2 separate regions of the Homo sapiens genome follow, and region 1 is linked to region 2. The links come from fine-mapping of genetic effects on gene expression. A gene starts in region 2. The other region holds a variant in brackets. All regions are shown on one strand. Distances are from middle to middle. Region 1 overlaps GTPBP4 (GTP binding protein 4). Region 2 holds the start of IDI1 (isopentenyl-diphosphate delta isomerase 1).

Region 1 (5,376 bases), 40 kb before region 2:
CCAAAATGAAGGGAAATAAAGTGAATGAGGTGCTGAATAGACTGCACCTGGCTATCCCAACCAGGAGGGACGATAAGGTAAGACGGCCCCTGGGACAGCCGTGGGCTCACAGTACTGTCAGCAGGTGCTGTCTGCGTGCCTTTTCCAGAAGCCTCCCATCCAGCTTCACACACTCGCAGGTGGATATTGTGGGTGGGCCTCAGTTTCACCTTCTTGCTTACATAAAGGATCGAGAAGGTGAAGAAAGTGCAGAACGCCACATGGCACCCGTTTCCCACTGCATGACGTGGTCACTGTTAGTTTATCCTTCCAGAAATGTTTCTGATATAGAAGATTAGTTTCTAAAAAGTTCTTTAAACACAGATGGAAATCTGTTTCATTCTTTAAATTTTCATTTTTTTGGCTGGGGGAAGTAGCTCACGCCTGTAATCCCAGCACTTTGGGAGGCCAAGGTGGGAAGATTGCTTAAGCCCAGGAGTTCTTGACCAGCCTGGGCAACATAGTGGGACCCTGTCTCTATAAAAAATAAATAAAATAAATTTTCATTGTTTTGTCCATTGTGAATGGGCACACATCGTTACGCTGTGTCTTCATGTTTTACTGCAAATGTGTCTGCACTTCACCATGTGGTGTTGACAACGTTCCTGTCCCACAGACGCCTTCCTGGTGTGTGCTGCACTGACGCTGGAGGCTGTGTCCTTCCCTCTGTCTTTCCTTGTGTCCTCGGCGTGGTCGGGCACTGACTGTCAGTCTTGTGTAAAGATGATTTTATTGTTGTGTGTTTATGTAATGCTGGGTGCGGTTGAGCATGTTTGTCTGCTTATTGGCCTTTTCAAAGTTCTTTAGGCTGTTTATCTTTTTCTCGCTGATTTGTTACTTTTGTATTACAAAGGTTGGATTCTTGTCAGATACATTGCAAATTTTTTTCTCTTTTTGTCACTTGCCTTTTTAACTTCAAATGTGCTGTACATTTTTGAACTATTAACATATATTAATTTTTTTTTCTGGGTGTTCAGGTTTGCATTGTACATAGAAAGGCTTACCATTCATTCCAAAGTCATTTTAAAAGTATCTTTTCTTGCTGGGTGCAGTGGCTCACGTCTGTAATCCCAGCACTCTGGGAGGCCGAGGCGGGTGGATCACCTGAGGTCAAGAGTCTGAGACCAGCCTGGCAATCATGGTGAAACCCCATCTCTGCTAAAACTACGAAAATTAGTCGGGCGCGCACCTATAATTCTACCTATTCAGGAGGCTGAGGCGGGAGAATCGTTTGAACCTGGGAGGTGGAGGTTGCAGTGAGCCGAGATCACTCCACTGTACTCCAGCCTGGGTGACAAGAGTGAGACTCTGTCAAAAAAAAAAAATTATCTTTTATACTAGCATTAAAAATTAGCTTTTTTGGATAGTCTTCACCGTGTCTTGAGTTGGTTATGTTGTGAGGGTGGAGGTTGCACTCCGTTTCAAGTGGTCGGCATTTCTGACCTGAGTATTGGAAATTTTATGTTTCCATTGAATTCTTATATGCACTTGAGTTTATGTCTAAATTTCTTTCATCTGTTGATCCAGTGTTATTTCTTACCACTTTCTTCTTCCATAATTTTTCATGATAATCATGATTTCTGTTTTTCCTGGATAAACTTTGGAATCACTTTGTGGAGTCCTCCTGGTCTCTGTGCTCAAAGTGACCCTGAACCCACTCCTCTCCCCTAAAATAATCTGTTGGTTGTTAATTGGTCTCGGTATGAACCCACTCCTCTCCCCTAAAATAATCTGTTGGTTGTTCATTGGTCTGGGTATGGTTTTCTGTTCCCCTTGCACGTAGGGAATTTGTTTCTACTTTTTCGGCTTTGTAAGTTTCTCATTCAGCAGGCATTTCACATAAATATTTTATATGGGATCTTCTCAGGAGAGGCCCCCTTTCATCCCTGAAGGAGTGGTGGCTCGCAGGAAGAGGATGGAAACTGAGGAGTCCAGGAAGAAGAGGGTATGCTGCCGAAGCTCTCGCCCAGTGTTCTCATGGGGGGAGGCAGGCTGTGTGTGCCCATCGTGGGGGCCTGGGGCATCGAACAGGAGCCGCGGGTGCCCAGACACTGGCCCCGTCAGGCTGCGGACACAGCAGTGAGTCCCCCTGCAGAAGCCTCTCTCATGGGGCTCTTTGGCCTGAGGGAAGATGGCCGTGAACCAAATGCATGAGTGGGATAGACAGTCCCCAGATGGCCAGAAACAGCCTCTTCCTACCAGAACCTAAAGGCCGGCCCCACAGACAGGGAGATAAGAAACAGCCTCTTCCTACCAGAACCCAAAGGCTGGCCCCGCAGACAGGGAGATAAGAAACAGCCTTCCTACCAGAAATGGAAGGTGAACCCCACTGATACTGAGAGGATTGGAGAAAAGATTGTTTCAAGTGACAAGGGGCAGAGCATTTCTGGATCTGAAAGGCAAAATGAAGCTGATGATAATTTCTCTTTCTATTGCAGGAACGAGATCTTGAGCTGGAAATGGGAGATGATTATATTTTGGATCTTCAGAGTAAGGGCCAGAGTGTGATCATTATTATAAAATGCCAATTGGACGTGAAGTATTTCAGAAAATGGGGGAAAGACTTTAATAAGTAATAAAAGTGTTTCAGCCTATTTGTCAACTTTTAATTTCTTGAAGATTAAAAGTTGCATCCTGAGGGCCAGGTGCAGTGGCTCACGCCTGTAATCACAGCACTTTGGATCCCTTATGCCCAGGAGTTTGAGACCAACCTGGGCAACATGGCAGAACCCCGTCTCTACAAAAAATACAAAGATTAGCCGGGTGTGGTGGCATGTGCCTGTAGTTCCAGTGACACGGGAGGCTGAGGTGGGAGGATCACTTGACCCTAGGAGG[A/T]CAAGGCTGCAGTGGGCAGAAATTGTACCTCTGCCCTCCAGCCTGGACGACAGAGTGAGACTCTGTCTCAAAGAAAGGTGCATGCTGATAGCACTCAGTGGGGGTTCTTCCATTGTTTCCTGTTGTTTTGGGATGGTGGGGTGATTTCTGTAGCTTTCTCCACGTGTGGGTGTTGAATGAGGCTGATGTGTTGTTTCCTGTTGTTTTGGGATGGTGGGGTGATTTCTGTAGCTTTCTCCACGTGTGGGTGTTGAATGAGGCTGATGTGTTGTTTCCTGTTGTTTTGGGATGGTGGGGTGATTTCTGTAGCTTTCTCCACGTGTGGGTGTTGAATGAGGCTGATGTGTTGATGCTGCTGCATGTGGAATTGCACGTCGTGCTCTCTTCTGCAGTGGAGTCGTTGATTTGCCGTCAGTCACAACTCATTTTGCGCACGTAGTACTTGAAGATATTAAAAACTGCTGTAAACGTAACCACCTTTTTTTTAACTTTAGAGTACTGGGATTTAATGAATTTGTCTGAAAAACATGATAAGATACCAGAAATCTGGGAAGGCCATAATATAGCTGATTATATTGATCCAGCCATCATGAAGGTTTGTGTCACTTTTTAAATTGCGGATTGTTTTCCTTTTTATTATAGTAGTATTGCTGGAAGATAGCAGCATGGCTTCGGCTCAGCTGGGCCTGTCCGCTTCATTCTGCACCCCTCCATCCTGACTCTGCCCCCTGTACCACTTCCCCACCCTGAGACTCTGGTGGAGATACTGGCCCTGGCTGGGCTCTGCTATGCTGGCCTGCCCCCTTCCCGCCGCCTCCACCCACCCACCCCGGACACTCTGGTGGAGATGCTGGGCCCCTTCGTTATCCTGCACCCCTCCATCCTGACTCTGCCTCCTGCACCTCTTCCCTGTCCCGACACTGGTGGAGATGCTGGGCCCCTTCATTCTCCTGCATCCCTCCATCCTGACTCTGCCCCCTACACCACCTTCCCCACCCCGAGACTCTGGTGGAGATGCTGGGCCTCTTCATTCTCCTGCACCCCTCCATCCTGACTGTGCCTCCTGCACCACCTTCCCCCCCACCCTGTGTCTCCGCCAGGCCCTGGATGGGCTCTGCTGTGCTGGGCCCTTCATTCTCCTGCATCCCTCCATCCTGACTGTGCCTCCTGCACCTCTTCCCCCCACCCCGAGACTCTGGTGGAGATGCTGGGCCCCTTCATTCTCCTGCATCCCTCCATCCTGACTGTGCCCCCTGCACCACCTTCCCCACCCTGTATCTCCGCCAGGCCCTTAATGGACTCTGCTGTGCTGGACCCTCTTCCTTGGGGGCTCCGCTGTGTCACATCTTTTTCCTGCCTCAATCCCCTCCCTACTTGCTTTTTCTTAGCATATAAAAGTCCACAAGTTTTACTCATCTTTTTAAAAAACGAAAACATCCTTAGACCGTGTCCTCCATTAGTTGCTATCCTGCCTTCTTCTCTCAGCTGAGCTGTCTGAAACATGCTAACATGCTTATACAATACTTGCTGTCCTGCCTTCTGCTCTCAGCTGAGCTCTCTGGAACATGCTTTTTATACAATACTTGCTGTCCTGCCTTCTTCTCTCAGCTGAGCTCTCTGGAACATTCTTTTTATACAATACTTGCCATCTGCATGTCCCATGTTGCCACTCCTTGGTTCCCACAGGCCCTCCGTCATTGAGTTCACATTTTCAGTCTCGTGGTCTCTGTGCTCCCTGTGCCTCCATAGCAGATTCTGGGATAGCAGATTCTGGGGGCAACAATCTCAATTTCGTTGGTGCTGGAGGAGTGGCCTCAGGGCATCTGCTGTCACCTCTGCTGGGGCCCCAGTCCAGCCCGTGCCCTCACTGTCCCCGCGGTGGCCGCCTGCCTTCCCAGCCTCTTCCCCTCTGCAGTGCGCGCTCTTGGGCGCAAGAAGCCTTGAGACTTCCCTCCTCCGCACAGCTGTGCCCGTGCCATCCCCTTCCACGAGGCCTGGCCCCCGTCTCACCCTCTGCACTGCTGGCCAGCATCTCGTACAGGCACATCTGCCTGCTGGGCTCCTGGCCGGGTTGCCTCATTGGGGGGTGATAAACGTGTGTGTTTTAGTTTTCATTTTTGTCTTATTTGTAGCCAGTGAGGTTGTATTTGGGGTGACATTAGAACGGACACGTGGGATGTGGCACGAAATCAGTGTCTCAGGACTGAGTTCCTTGTGTGTGTCTGCCGGGAGCATTGGAAGTGAAGGAGGCGGTCTCTGCACATTTTTAGCCTTGGAATTTAATTGTTTTAAAAAAAGGAAATGGTGCACAGGGGTTACTGACTTGCTGGCGGCTGGCGTTCACGTGGTCTCCATTTTCTTCACAGAACCCTCCCTGTGAGGTAAATGGCACATAGGCAGGGCCCAGGTGGGTCTGGACCAGGGCAATCGCTCTCCTCTGAGTCAGGGAAACAAAGCTCCCATACACACTCTGCCACACTCACTGACTCAGGGGTTTTCTCA
Region 2 (5,376 bases):
TGTCTACACCACACAGCCCAGCTGCTCCACTGTCTACACCACACAGCCCAGCTGCTCCACTGTCTACACCACACAGCCCAGCTGCTCCACTGTCTACACCACACAGCCCAGCTGCTCCACTGTCTACACCACACAGCCCAGCTGCTCCACTGTCTACACCACACAGCCCAGCTGCTCCACTGTCTACACCACACAGCCCAGCTGCTCCACTGTCTACACCACACAGCCCAGCTGCTCCACTGTCTACACCACACAGCCCAGCTGCTCCACTGTCTACACCACACAGCCCAGCTGCTCCACTGTCTACACCACACAGCCCAGCTGCTCCACTGTCTACACCACACAGCCCAGCTGCTCCACTGTCTACACCACACAGCCCAGCTGCTCCACTGTCTACACCACACAGCCCAGCTGCTCCACTGTCTACACCACACAGCCCAGCTGCTCCACTGTCTACACCACACAGCCCAGCTGCTCCACTGTCTACACCACACAGCCCAGCTGCTCCACTGTCTACTGTCTACACCACACAGCCCAGCTGCTCCACTGTCTACACCACACAGCCCAGCTGCTCCACTGTCTGGTCCTTTGTCTACACCACACAGCCCAGCTGCTCCACTGTCTACACCACACAGCCCAGCTGCTCCACCGTCTGTCTACACCACACAGCCCAGCTGCTCCACTGTCTAGGTCTGCGTCAGCGCACTCTGCTTCCACAATGATGAAAGTACCTAACAATGAACTTCTCCAAAGTATCCCTGTTAAGTGATGCGGGCCGAACGTTAAATTATCATCTGTAGATGATCTCTTATAGTATCTAAAACATGTAAATCCTACATAAATAGTTGTGCTGTATTGTTTACAGAATAAGTCTGTATATGTTCAGTACAGATGAAATTTTTTTCCAAATATTTTATAATGTGCAGTTGGTTAAATCCATGGATATGGACCCCAAGGATACAGTAGGCCAACTGTATATTAGGTGATCACTAAGATAGGTTTCGTTACTACATAATTACTAGACTTTTTGACATGACTTTTTTTCCGGGGGGATGGGGCTGGGTCTTGCTATGTCTGTCGCCCAAGCTGGAGTGCAGTGGCGCGATCTCGGCTCACTGCAGCCTTCGACTCCGCCTCCCAAAGTGCTGGGATTAAAGGCGTGCACCACCGCCCAGCTGTAATGACAATTGCTCTTTCAGGATTTTCAGAATTCAGATTTTAAAGCTAAGCTGCATAATCACAAGATAAAATGAATACGTCTATTTATGCGTTTAAAGAATACCATGTAGTAGACGCGGGAACACATCATCCAACCCAAGAAAAAGGTCTAGTTCCATCTATGCGATGCTCCCCATCTCTTCTCCTGCTCCATTCCCAGGAGAAGCGCCTTGAGTGTGTTGCTGTCACCCTCTTGCACGGACGCAGGTGTATGCACCCGCGTCACACGCGTGGACTCGGCACGGGGAGGCCGGTGTCGTCACGCTCGTGTTTCTGACGATGCTGTCTACGCTTGTTTCTGAATTCTCTAAGGGGAGACTCGCAACTCTTAGTCTCCTGCGACTCGGTTTCCAGTTCCACGAGTTCCTAAACCTCAGGTGACTGTGCGCAGACGACGATCTTTTCCGCTGACAAAGAATGGCAACGTCTCTGACGCCCCGACTCACGCCTCCGCCTTCCACGGGGCGCGGGCGCCCACCACAGCCCGGGAAGGCCCGGCCTCCCTCCAGTTCGGGAGACCAACGCCGCCACCCCCAGCTGTCCAGGCCTCCGCGCCGAGACCTCACGGGTGGCTCAGACCTCGGGCCTCCTCCCCGCCCCGTCCCGCAGCTCCCCGATGCCGCCCTGCCCCTGTCTCCCGAACTCCGCCGCCCGTCCACAGTACCTGATCAGCCTCCGGCCACAGACAACCGCCGGTCCCGGATGGCGCCCGCTTTGAGCACAGTCTGCGGCGCGCACCGCCCACTGGCCCCGCCCCCGGGCCGCGCAGCCAATCGCTCGCGCCAGCGCCAGTCCACGCCACATCGCCCGGCCAATTGGCGCCCGTACGCGCTTGACGACACAATCTCGCCAAGCTTCGCCTGGTGGTGCCACCTCCCTGGCCTGTGACAACGGCAGACGCGCGAAGCACCGGGAACCTGAGCCGTGACCGCGGGCTCTGGCGCCTTTAAGGGGGTCAACACGCCCCACCCCCAGTTCCGCAGAGGCAGCGTCCCGCGACTGGGCGGTGCCCGAGACCACAGACGCCGCCAGCCAATCACGCTTTCGATCCTGCCGTGCGAGCCCGAGGCGCTGCGAACGGTGCCTAACGTCAGACGTCTCGAGGCTCGCGTTCCATGGAGGAAGCCCTCCCAATCCGAAAGCGCCCGGGCGCCAAGCCCTGCAGCCGGAAGCTCGGCGTCCCATGGGAGCGACCTCCGCATGGCTGGACCAATGGAAACGGAGGAAAGGCGGGACGTCACTGCTGACTGGCTGGTTGGGCACTCCCCCCCCTCCCCCCCCCCGAGTTCCGCCGCTGGGACTACAGCGTTTGGCTGCACGGGGAGTTCTCGTATGTCTAGAACGATGGCCTTTCTGCGGTGTCTGCGACCGGGACCAAGGCGGAGCAAAGTCGCCGGGGGTGTGGGGTGTTCCACGCTATGTTGGGAGTGTTCGCTTTCGAGGTACATGACTACGTTCTAAATTTTTTTTTTTTGAGACAGTTTCATTCTTGTTGCCCAGGCTTGAGTGCAATGGTGCAGTCTCCGCTCACAGCAACCTCCGCCGCCCGGGTTCAGGCAATTGTCCCGTCTCAGCCTCCCAAGTAGCTGGAATTACAGGCATGCGCCACCACGCCCGGCTTATTTCGTATTTTTAGTAGAGACGGGTTTCCGCATGTTGGTCAGGCTGGTCTGGAACTCCTGACCTCAAGTGATCCACCTGGCTCAGCTTACCGAAGTGCTGAGATTCCGGGTGTGAGCCACCGCGCCTAGCCCTCTAAACTTTTAAATAATCGTGAAATGTATGCGCAGCTGAAGCGAATTCAGCTATTTCCTCTACCTTTTGTGTGGAATTTAAAATACTGAACTTGTGAGATGAACCTGGTGGGCACCAGTTCTCAAACTTCTTGGTCACAGGACGCTTGCACTCTCTTAAAATGTACTGAGGACACCTAAAAGCTTTTGCTCACTGTTGTTTACTACTGCTATTTACTAACATAGAAATTAAACATATTAAAATATTCACTTAAAAAACACACGACACTAACATAAGTTATATTTTTATTAAAAATCTTTTCCAGACAAAAAACAGACTTTGATTTTGTTTTATGTGTTGACAGATCTCTTTCATGTCTGGCTTCACACAGATAAGAAAATCTGGCCTCCCGCATGCGCAGCAAGTCCTCACTGCTGTCAGTGCGTTCTTGGGAATCAGGACTTTTAAGTGAAACAACGTATAGCAAAACCAATTTTACCAGAGGCTAAAAAATAAGGATTAAGTTCCTAAAGCATACTTCTGGCCAAGGAAAAAAAAAATCACTAAGCTTCTAAAGGCCAAAGTATTCTAATATTAAACATTGAAATAAATGTGAGCTATACATACATTTAAGAAAGATGAATAAAAAGATAATTATTACTTAATTATTCCAGTTCTGGGTCATGTGTAGCTGAAGCCTGTTTCAGTAGCTCAGGGCACAAAGAGGGAACCAGCCCTGGACAGGACGCCATTCCATCACAGGGCCACTCACACACCCACACTCAGACTGGGACAGTGAAGACACACCAGTTCACCTCACGTGCACACCTCTGGGATGTGGCAAGAACTGCAGCACCCAGAGAAAACCTATGCAGGTGTGGCGAGAACACGTAAACACCACAAAGACAGTGCCCCTGGCTGGGAGTCTTTTTCTCATCAATGTTACAAAGAAATGAATGAGCACCTGCTGTATGCAGTTTGAAAATTGAGAAGTATTTTTTAATAGCCTTTTCAAATTATCTTGGTTATTCTTTTTCGATACTACTACCCCAAAACACGAGTGGTGGATTTTCCAATTACTATTTGGAATTTGAAACCACTTCAATGGACATTTTGTACTTGTTACATTAAAACTCATTATTTTTGACTGTACCTCGAATGCCTATTTTCCTGTGCGTGATGTTGAAATGTCATGCATTGGTCATTTGGAAAATACTGATTTACTGAATTAAACAGATCTTCCAAATGCTAAAACATTTCATTATTCAATATCAATCACATTGTTAATATCACTAGTAATCTCATCAGAAAAGTTTTTAAGTATTGGGAAGCTAAAGTATTGTAGCACTGGCTTCCACATAAAGTCACCAAGTTCTTGATGGTTTTAAGTTTGTTTTTTATTTGAATTTTTGCATGAAAATTCCAACATTATTGGCAACAAGTACTGAGAATTATGTTCCTTGAAGTGGCACGAACATATTTATTTTCACGAAAATGTCTGCCAAATATCTAGGTTTGAATACCTCAGTTTATCTGTCAGTTCTTTCCAGTAAAAGCGGTATTTCATGAAAAAAGCAGCTAGTTAGTTCAGCTTACAACTCAAACGTTCCCACAAGTTCTTTTCCTGGAGACAACAATCATAATTCAGCATGTAGCAGAAGTGCTTTATGTGCATTTCCCATTTTGTTATAGAGAATATTAGATGAGTACTGAATGGTCGAGATGATTAAAGTTAATATTTTTTACTGCTAACCATCAGCTGAGCCTTCAATGAGTCATAATCTTTTTGCTGGTGGAGGGTTTTGCCTCAATGTTGATGGCTGTTGATCAAGGTGGTGCTTGAAAGTTGGGGTGGCTGTTGCAGTTTCTTAAAATAAGACAATAATGAAATTTGTCACGTTGATTGACAATTCTTTTCATGAAAGATTTTTTTTAAACCACAGGAAAACTTTTTTTTGAGACAGAGTCTCGTTCTTTCGCCCAGGCTGAAGTGCAGTGGTGCGATCTTGGCTCACTGTAACCTCCACCTCCTGGGTTCAAGCAATTCTCCTACCTCAGCCTCATGAGTAGCTGGCACTATGGGCGTGTGCCACCATGCCCGGCTAATTTTTGTATTATTAGTAGAGCTTGGGTTTCACCATGTTGGCCAGGCTGGTCTTGAACTCCTGACCTTGTGATCTGCCCACCTTGGCCTCTCAAAATGCTGGGATTATAGGCATGAGCCACCGCACCCGGCCAGGAAAACTTCCAAAGTTAGAGTCAATCCTCTCAAACCCTGCTGCTACTTCATAAACTAAGTCTATGGAGTATTCTGAATCCTTTGTTATCATTTCAACAGTGTTCACATCTTCACCAGGATTAGGTTCCATCTCAAGAGACCACTTTCTTTGTTCATCCACAAGAAGCAACTGCTTATCCATTCAT

What was found.
Region 1: its variant is fine-mapped to the expression of IDI1 in blood mononuclear cells (TOPMed, PIP above 0.99). The same link has a PIP of 0.9 or more in whole blood.

What each region holds. Positions count from the first base shown.
Region 1 is chr10:1,007,052-1,012,427 of GRCh38, forward strand. It overlaps GTPBP4 (GTP binding protein 4), which reads left to right. Exons shown (of 17, transcript NM_012341.3): 10 at 1-77; 11 at 1,907-1,984; 12 at 2,478-2,529; 13 at 3,369-3,469. Among named protein-coding and RNA genes, the nearest start is that of IDI2-AS1, 13 kb to the right of the region's middle. RefSeq lists enhancers at 1,567-2,067, 2,068-2,568. The variant A/T (reference allele first, on the strand shown) is at 2,875.
Region 2 is chr10:1,046,982-1,052,357 of GRCh38, forward strand. It overlaps IDI1 (isopentenyl-diphosphate delta isomerase 1), which reads right to left and starts at 2,138. Exons shown (of 5, transcript NM_004508.4): 1 at 1,883-2,138. The coding sequence starts at 2,022. RefSeq lists enhancers at 1,385-1,915, 1,916-2,445, 2,137-2,186, 2,446-2,975, 2,647-2,786 and silencers at 1,727-1,816, 1,827-2,046.